Regions from separate parts of the Homo sapiens genome. Here regions 2 and 3 are each linked to region 1. The links come from fine-mapping of genetic effects on gene expression. A gene starts in region 1. Each other region holds a variant in brackets. All regions are shown on one strand. Distances are between the middles of the regions. Region 1 holds the start of NUP42 (nucleoporin 42). Region 2 holds the start of LOC101927890 (a long non-coding RNA gene). Region 3 has its middle 24 kb from the start of NUP42.

What was found. PIP is the estimated chance that this variant, and not a neighbour inherited with it, causes the effect.
Region 2: its variant is the best candidate, but not a certain one, in a credible set for the expression of NUP42 in whole blood (TOPMed, PIP 0.83).
Region 3: its variant is the best candidate, but not a certain one, in a credible set for the expression of NUP42 in whole blood (INTERVAL, PIP 0.63).

The regions. Positions count from the first base shown.
Region 1 is chr7:23,180,625-23,183,385 of GRCh38, forward strand. NUP42 (nucleoporin 42) reads left to right here and starts at 1,424. Exons shown (of 7, transcript NM_007342.3): 1 at 1,424-1,582. The coding sequence starts at 1,462. RefSeq lists enhancers at 1,019-1,618, 1,719-1,788.
Region 2 is chr7:23,212,604-23,215,364 of GRCh38, forward strand. LOC101927890 (a long non-coding RNA gene) reads left to right here and starts at 1,472. Exons shown (of 2, transcript XR_242147.3): 1 at 1,472-1,567. The variant A/G (reference allele first, on the strand shown) is at 1,616.
Region 3 is chr7:23,204,464-23,207,224 of GRCh38, forward strand. No RefSeq gene overlaps it. Among named protein-coding and RNA genes, the nearest start is that of NUP42, 24 kb to the left of the region's middle. RefSeq lists a silencer at 1,501-1,780 and an enhancer at 1,971-2,030. The variant C/G (reference allele first, on the strand shown) is at 1,169.

The DNA of each region.
Region 1 (2,761 bases):
TTGATTAAAGAAAATAAAAAACTAGTTTGGACAAGTAGTTCCCGTCCTGTAGATTCTGCTGTCTTCAAAATCCAAACAAATTACATGAGCAAGAATGATGGCTCACTCCCAGCTCAATAATCCTAAAACCACCAGCACAAACCTGTAATCCAACAAAGTCAGATCTATTGACTTATTGCAATCAAGAAGACTGCACACCAGAGGAGCTGTGGTGTGTCTCACCGTACAAAATAAAAGGTAGTTATTGTATGTTTTGGCGGGGAGAGTGAAGTTTAGGTGAAATTTAAATGAAATCTCAAAGCATAGCTGTGTGTAAAGGCATTAACATCAGGTCTGGACGAGAATTGAATGTAGGGCATGTTTCCTTGGAAACTGCAAAGTTAAGAAAATACAGAATGTTTTCAGAACCGTTTATCTGAAGCTCTACACCTGGATAGAAATTGAGGCTGCTTCTCTGCGTCAAAGAGACTTAGATCCTCCAGGCAAGGATGGGACTTTTCACTCGTTCTGATATAATTTCAAATAGCAACGTTTATGTGGACTTGAAAGAACAAGGTTTCGGCCAGACGCGGTGGCTCACACCTGTAATCGCAGCACTTTGGGAGGCGGACGCGGGCGGATCACGAGGTCAGAAAATAGAGACCATCCTGGCTAACACGGTGAAACCGTGTCTACTAAAAATACAAAAAAATTAGCCGGGCGTGGTGGCGGGCACCTGTAGTCCCAGCTACTCGGGAGGCTGAGGCACGAGAACGGCATGAACCTTGGAGGCAGAGCTTGCCTCCAAGCTCTGCCACTGTACTCCAGCCTGGGCGACAGAGCGAGACTCCGTCTCAAAAAAAAAAAAAAAAAAGAAGAAATAACAAGGTTTCTCAGTGTGTAGTAAGAATGTACTTAAGTGGTAATACTTTTCCGTTGCAGCATGTCCTAAAAGAAACATTGTTTCCTCTTAACGTCGTCTGGCTTTATTTGACTCTGTTATCCATCCAGATGAAAGGCTAGGCAGTTTGTTACTTTCTCAGCCCAAGCTAAGTTTTACCGTCTCAGCAAGAACGACTCAGTCTCTCAAATCATAGCTAATTCTCCTCTGAGGGCCTTGCTGAAGTTCTGCGTTTGCTTGCTCCGCTTTCCTCTCATTTTGGACCTCCAGCCTTCCTGTAGTCCGAGGCCCTGCACCGGGGTCAAACGCGCCTCCGGTCTTCACGTAACCGTTCAAGCATCCCTCCTTCCCAGGACACACTCAAAGCGTCAGAGCGGTCCGCTCTTCTCAAGTCCTATTGGCTCAAGTCCATGCGTCTCATGGCACTGCCGGGTGAGAGGCGGAAAAAGGCCTTCCCAGGCGCGAGAAGATGACGTCACAGTAGCCCGGCCGGGCGCCGAGGTTGCCTTAGGGCTCTCTGCCCAGTAACAGGCATCGAACGGTGCAGACTGAAGACGCCCTCCGTCAGCGACGCCGTCGCAATGGCCATTTGTCAATTCTTCCTTCAAGGCCGGTGCCGCTTTGGAGATCGGTGCTGGAACGAACATCCCGGTGCTAGGGGTGCAGGAGGAGGACGGCAGCAACCGCAGCAGCAGCCTTCAGGTGACTCTCCTCTGAATCCTCCGCGGTAACCGAGCCGGGAAGGGTCCGCCGGCGGGGACCGGGCGTCCCGCGTGTTTCCCGCTGCTGGTGACCCCAACGTGCCCGCGTCGCGGCCTTGCCGGCCCTACTGGGCCCTGCACAACGTTTTTAAACCGAGGGTTTTATCTACATATTATTCATGTGGTCCGTTTTTATTGAGCTTCTGAGGACCTGGGTTTGGGCCTGGATGCTTGTGCGAAACTGAGTTTTTAAATCGGAAGTACCTATCGAAACTACCTTGTAGGTAAATGCCGGAATTGAATATAATTTTTACTAAGTTGTTTTTTCGAGGGTGAGGCTAGCAGCTTGGGTCAGAATCAGGACTTCATTTTGGAGAAGTCGTGGACTTCTTTGAAAAAATCTAATAAAACCGGCCGGGCGGTGGCTCACGCCTGTAATCCCAGCACTTTGGGAGGCCGAGGCGGGCGGATCACGAGGTCAGGAGTTTGAGACCAGCCTGACCAACATAGTGAAACACCGTCTTTACTAAAAATACCAAAAAAAAAAAAAAAAAAAAAAATAGCCGGGCGTGGTGGCGCGCGCCTGTAATCCCAGCTACTCATGAGGCTGAGACAGGAGAATCGCTTGAACCCGGGAGGTGGAGGTTGCAGTGGGCCGAGATCGTGCCACTGCACTCCAGCCTGGGCGACAGAGCGAGACTATCAAAAAAAAAAAAAGAAAGAAAGAAAAGAAAAAAAGAAAATCTAATAAAACCTATAGAGCCATACCGCAAAAATGCACCTGCTCATAAATTTGGGGTGAAATTGGGAATGTGGGACGCCCAGTTAAGGGCTATCCGGGAGGTGAGGAAAGGAGATGCGGGGGCCACGTTGATCTAGTCCCTGGGCCTAGATCATTGTCAAAGCTTTTTATCTTCAAGGAAAGGAGAGATTAGACATGAAACCTTAGAACAACACAAGATTTTTAAAGATCGGGTTAATAATTCGGTGCTGTCTCCCTTCCTTCCCCTCCTTTAGGGCTATTCATCTGACCTTTATTTTTTTATTTTATTTTGAGACGGAGTCTTGCTCTCTCAGTCAGGCGGCTCACTGCGACCTCCGCCTCCCAGGCTCAAGCGATTCTTATGCCTCAGTCTCCCGAGTAGCTGGGATTACGGGTGCCCGCCACCATGCCCTTGAT
Region 2 (2,761 bases), 32 kb after region 1:
CCCCAGTTCACTTCTATAACCTGTGTGAACCTCTCACATTGGTCCTTCAGGCTGAGGTCACCAGCAGCAGCTTCCCTGACCTCCACTCTTTCAGCCTTTCCAATAACTCCCTACAGTAAAAGTCTCCTAAATGGAATACACAGAGGCTCTTCTGATATCCTGATCCAACCGTGATACAGAGATCTACCTTGCTCGTTTTAACAGCTGAATAGTATCCCAGTGCCTAACTGTCTTATAATGAATTTAACTTCTCCCTTAATGATGGACACTTGGGTTTTTCTAGCAATTTACTAACACAATTAATGTCAGGATGAACTTTCTTTCTTGCACACACATACACACATACAAGTTCTTTATTTGCCACCCTCAAGCACATGACTGCTGAATTGTGCTTTAAAGAACTTTCCATCACACCACGAACATGTCACATTGTTAGGTTCGTGTGATCACTATGAGGAAGAGGAGGGGGAGGGGACCATGGAGGCCGTAATGTCTAGACTCTTTCTTCCCTGTCTTCAGTTCACCAAATGTAGTTCAACTGTGGACAAAGGGGCTCTTTGAAGCGTCCTCTAAATGTTTAAAATTTTGTTTTTAGAGATAGGATCTTGTTTTGTTGCCCAAGCTGGTCTTGAACTCCTAGCATCAAGCATTCCTCCCATTTCATCCTCCCAAAGTGCTGAGATTACAGGCATGAGCCACCACACCAGGCCTATATTTATTTATTTATTAGTTTTTTGAAATACAGTCTCTGTCACCCAGGCTGGAGTACAGTGGCACAATCTCAGCTCACTGCAACCTCCTTCTCCCAGGTTCAAGCCATTCTCCTGCCTCAACCTCCCGAGTAGCTGGGACTATAGGTGTATGCCACCACGCCCGGCTAATTTTTGTACTCTTAGTAGAGACCGAGTTTTGCCATGTTGGCCAGGCTGGTCCTGAACTCCTGACCTCAAGTGATCTGCCTGCCTTGGCCTCCTAAAGTGCTGACATTACCGGCGTGAGGGATTACCGGTGTGAGCCACCATGCCCTGCCCCTAAATTTATTTTTTAATTGTCAAGTTGTTACCAGCAGTGAATCCATACAGGTCTGCAACAACCTCAGTTCTTGCCTCCTCAGAAGAAAGAATTCGACCAAGGGGGCATAAGGTAGAGTGAGAGACCAAGGCAAGTTTTACAACAGTAGTGAAAGTTTATTAAAAAGTTTTATGGCGGGAATGAAAGAAAGTGAAGTACACTTGGAAGAGGGCCAAGCGGACAACTTGAGAGAGTCAAGTGTGCTGTTTGACCTTTGACTTGGGGTTTTATATGTTGGTATGCTTCTGGGGGTTGCATCTCTTCTCCCCTGATCCTTCCCTTAGGTTGGGCTGTCCGCATGCGTGGTGGTCGGCCAGCACCTGGGCGGGGGGAAGCATGCGCAGTATGTTTACTGAGGTTGTACGCATGCTCACTTGAGGCGTTCTTCCCTTACCAGCGCAGTGCTACCAGAGGAAGCTAAACCAGTTAAACTACGCCATTTTGCCTCTTAGTGGGCATGCTTGAGTCCACTCACCCAACTCCTGATATCTTATTCGTAAGTTGCTAATCACCAATTTCAGATGTTTCTATTTATTGGGAGACA[A/G]CCTTTCCCTGGCACTGCGACCAATTATTATTTTAGAGAGACAGCTTAACAACCGCTTGACCATCACCTGATGGTCCCCTGACATTCCTGGTGGGGGCAGGGGGCCTCTCCTGTTCCTGGGGCAGGCGCAGCACTCTCTTAGCTCTACCCTGTAGCCCCTGCTTCCACCATAACAGTTCACAAAGAACTGGCAAACCCTTGAAATTTCCAATTTCCCTTCTTTTGCCATTTTCTGTAGGCTGCTATGATTCAAGCCAGAGAAAGCTGCCGCCTCAGCCCCCACCTCCATCGCCGCGGGGGTGAGGCCCCAGATACCTGCCTGGCTTCTTCAGCTCTCCCCTTGGCTCCTAGCTTTGTGCTGAATGGTCCTGCCTTCCCACAATGCCCTTATCTCACCAAATCTTCACCCTGAAGCCATGAATTAGAGCTTCTAGCTGACTAAATGCAGTATCTCTCAGAAATCTGTCATGTGTCCTTTCTGCTTCTCGTGCCCAATTAACTAATTAGCATCATTTTACAAACTTCTCTGGGCTAGCCCTAGAGCTCAGCTCTAACACCACCCAGGTCTCCAGGTAAAGCCTGGCTATACCTCCTATCCTTGTTTTGTTGCTGATAAATAAGCTTTTTATTGATCTTGCAGAAAAATTATTTTTCTAATTTTTTTCTCTTTTGCCTTTCTATCTTGAGTTGTGCCATGACAAAACACCACCAACCCCATTTTCCAAACCTTACATAGAGGTTCTCTTCCCCCTTCTCCCTGTGTGCCCAGCATGGTGTGAAAACACAGCCTGAAAATATTCTCTCCAGCTTCTTCTGTCAGGTTCCCCACCCTTCTCCATCAGCATTCTTAACGCCACAGGGATTCCTTCCAGCCCACTTTGGAGTACAGTTTCCCTCAGGCCACAACATTTACTGTTATTTTATGAATAAAACTTTATTTTACTGGCGGTTGGTAAACTGAACGAACAAGTACTATTTATAAAATAAATACAGAACATGATACAACAGCCAGCATTTTTTCTTTTTTTCTTTTTTTTTTTTTTTTTTTTTGAGATGGAGTTTCACTCTTGTTGCCCAGGCTGGAGTGCAATGGCGCGATCTCGGCTCACTGCAACCTCCGCCTCCTGGGTTCAAGCGATTCTCCTG
Region 3 (2,761 bases), 24 kb after region 1:
TCAAGTTACTTGTATAAACAACCACCAAAAAGGGGGAAGGTACAGAATAGTATGTATGATATACCATTTAAAGTACAAAAGAGCAAAACAATACTGTAGTATTATGTATGGATTCATAAACACAGGAATAATAGCATGTGGATAATAAGCACTGATATGAGTTGGCTGTGTCCCCACCCAAAATCTCATCTTGAATTGTAATAATCCCCATGTGTCAAGGGCAGGACCACGTGGAGACAATTGAATCATGGAGCTGGTTTCCCTCATTCTGTTCCCACGATAGTGAGTTCTCATGAGATCTGATGGTTTAGGGGCTTCCCCCTTTCCTGGGCTCTTATTCTCTCTGCTGCCGCCATGTGAAGAAGGATGTGTTTGCGTCTCCTTCTGCCATGATTGTTAAGTTTTCTGAGGCCTCCCCAGCCATGCAAAACTGTGAGTCAATTAAACCTCTTTTCTTTATAAATCACCCAGTCTTTATTAGCAGTGTGAGAATGGACTAATACAAGCACCAAATTCAGAACAGTGTTTACCTAGGGAAAGAAAAAAAGAAATGGGATCTGAAAGGCACAGACAGGGAGCTTTATATGTGACTTAAAAAAAAAAAAAAGCTTAATATGAGAAGCATAAAATTTGACAGAGCTGGGCATGATGGCACAAACCTGTAGTCCCAGCTACTTGGGAGGCTGAGGCAGGAGGATCATTTTGGCCCAGGAGGTCAAGGCTGCAGTGAGCCATGATCACACCACTGCACTCCAGCCTGCATGACAGAGTGAGTCGCTGTCTCAAAAAAAAATTTTTTTTTAATTGACACTGGGTGATGAGTAGTACATAGTAATACGCTGTTGTTTTCTATACTTTCCCACATGCTTGAAATAAGTCTGCAAACTTTTAAATATTTGATTTAGGGGGAAAATGCCTTTTTCCCCACCCTAAATTGTGTATTATCAAGTCACTTTCAGATTTCTGCAGTGATCACTGTGAATCCACTGGTTTGCCAAATGGTGTCCAAGCCTGTTGGATTAAATATGTCATGCTGATGAGGCTTGTCATTCAAACACTGAAGCACAGGAGTAAAACTAGAGAACTGACTGTAGAGGTGGAAAATGTAATTTTTGCTATCAGACTAACGAAATATAAAAGGTACACATTTGTGGAACAAAATAAAAAT[C/G]TTTGATTCACTAGTTGTGTGTTTGTTTCTCTAATTACACTGGACGAGGAAAATAATCTAGAATCAACATATTAAGTAGTTACCTTGAGGCTCTTTTCTCAACCACACATCATCAACCACCTGGAAATCTGTTCCTTTTTCCTGGTTATTTACAATGCAAGCAGCTTTTAGCCCTGGCAGCACAGAAGCAGAAGAATTGAGGAATTCTCTGCCACTCCTGTAGTATCCTTTAACAGGTTAAGTGGTTGTCAAGCTTCTTTTTTAAATTTGTAAACCTATTTGAATCAATTTGTGACTCCTGCATTCCGGCCCGGCAGAAAGAGCTCGAAGAGACGCAGAGCGCGGCGCGCTCCCCCACGGCCCTCCAGGCCGGCGGGTGAGATGGGGAGATGAGCTAGGGGGCCCCGGACTGGCTGCGCCCTCTGCCCTGCAGACACGGGGGGCCCCGCTGTGGCTGCCCACTGGCCGGGCGCAGGCCTCGAAGCCGCGGCGAACCTCTCTTCCCCACCCCACCTCGGTGACTGTTGGCGGCGGCTCTCCCTGCCCAGACCCCGCCGCCGGATCCTGCCCGGCCTCGACGAAACCCCGCCGAGCCGCCGAGACGCAGTGTCTCCGGGTGGCGGCGGGAGAGGCGGGCCGGGAAGCATGGCGGCCGCCCCAACACCGCGCGGCGGAGACCGTTAGGGTGTGCAGGGCCCGGGAAGGCGGTCTCGCGACGCAGGCAAGCTCGGCCGCCTCTTTAGGCCACGGAGCCGCGCGAGTCCGGGCCCGGGTGACCGCTCTGTTCCCACTGGACGAGACCTGCCGAGTCCTCAGGACAACGGACAAAGGCCTTAACGGGCTTGGGAGGTGAGCGAAGTCCCGAACGATGACGGGTGGAACAGTTAGCGGCCTTCGGGCGGTTGGTCTCGTTCTACCAGAGCTTGCTGTCGGAAGAGAGAAATGGTGGAATGACAAGCCACGTCTGGCCTCTTGGAAATGCCCACCACCCTTTGGGAAGATTTACTGGCCGTTTATGGAAGGCCTGTGTATTTAATATGAAACAGCTGCTCTCAACACTACCCAAACCTTTTAATAGAAAACATTTGCCACATCTAGCCCTTCTATGAGCTAGATGGAAAGAGGTTGCTGATGTATGATAAAGTTAGAAAATCACACATCTTGTAAATTCTCATTTGCTTAAAAGAAATCATAGAAAATAAATGTCTTCTGGAGACGACTTTTGGAAATGGAGTTGTTAACACGGCCTCTGGAAGCGAGACGTCCACGTTTGTTAAGTGGTTTAGAGGACATGGAGCTGGAAGACCTGAGAAGGAAGAGAAGAAGCTTCTGTGCCAGACTGGTCATATTTAGAAGACATTTTCATATTCTCTCCATTGTTTTGTGTGCATTTCATTCCTCACTACTGTGTATATGGTTGACAATGCTAAGCTTTTTTGAAATGTCTATTCTTTTTAGATATTCTGAAGTGCCTGATATATGTAGAAAAAAATAACCTTTTGTAAATATCTTTTTGTTACAATTCATATGAAATGTTTGGTGGGGGAATGGCCCAATCACCTGTTGAGTAATACTCATTGTGTTTGTGCACTG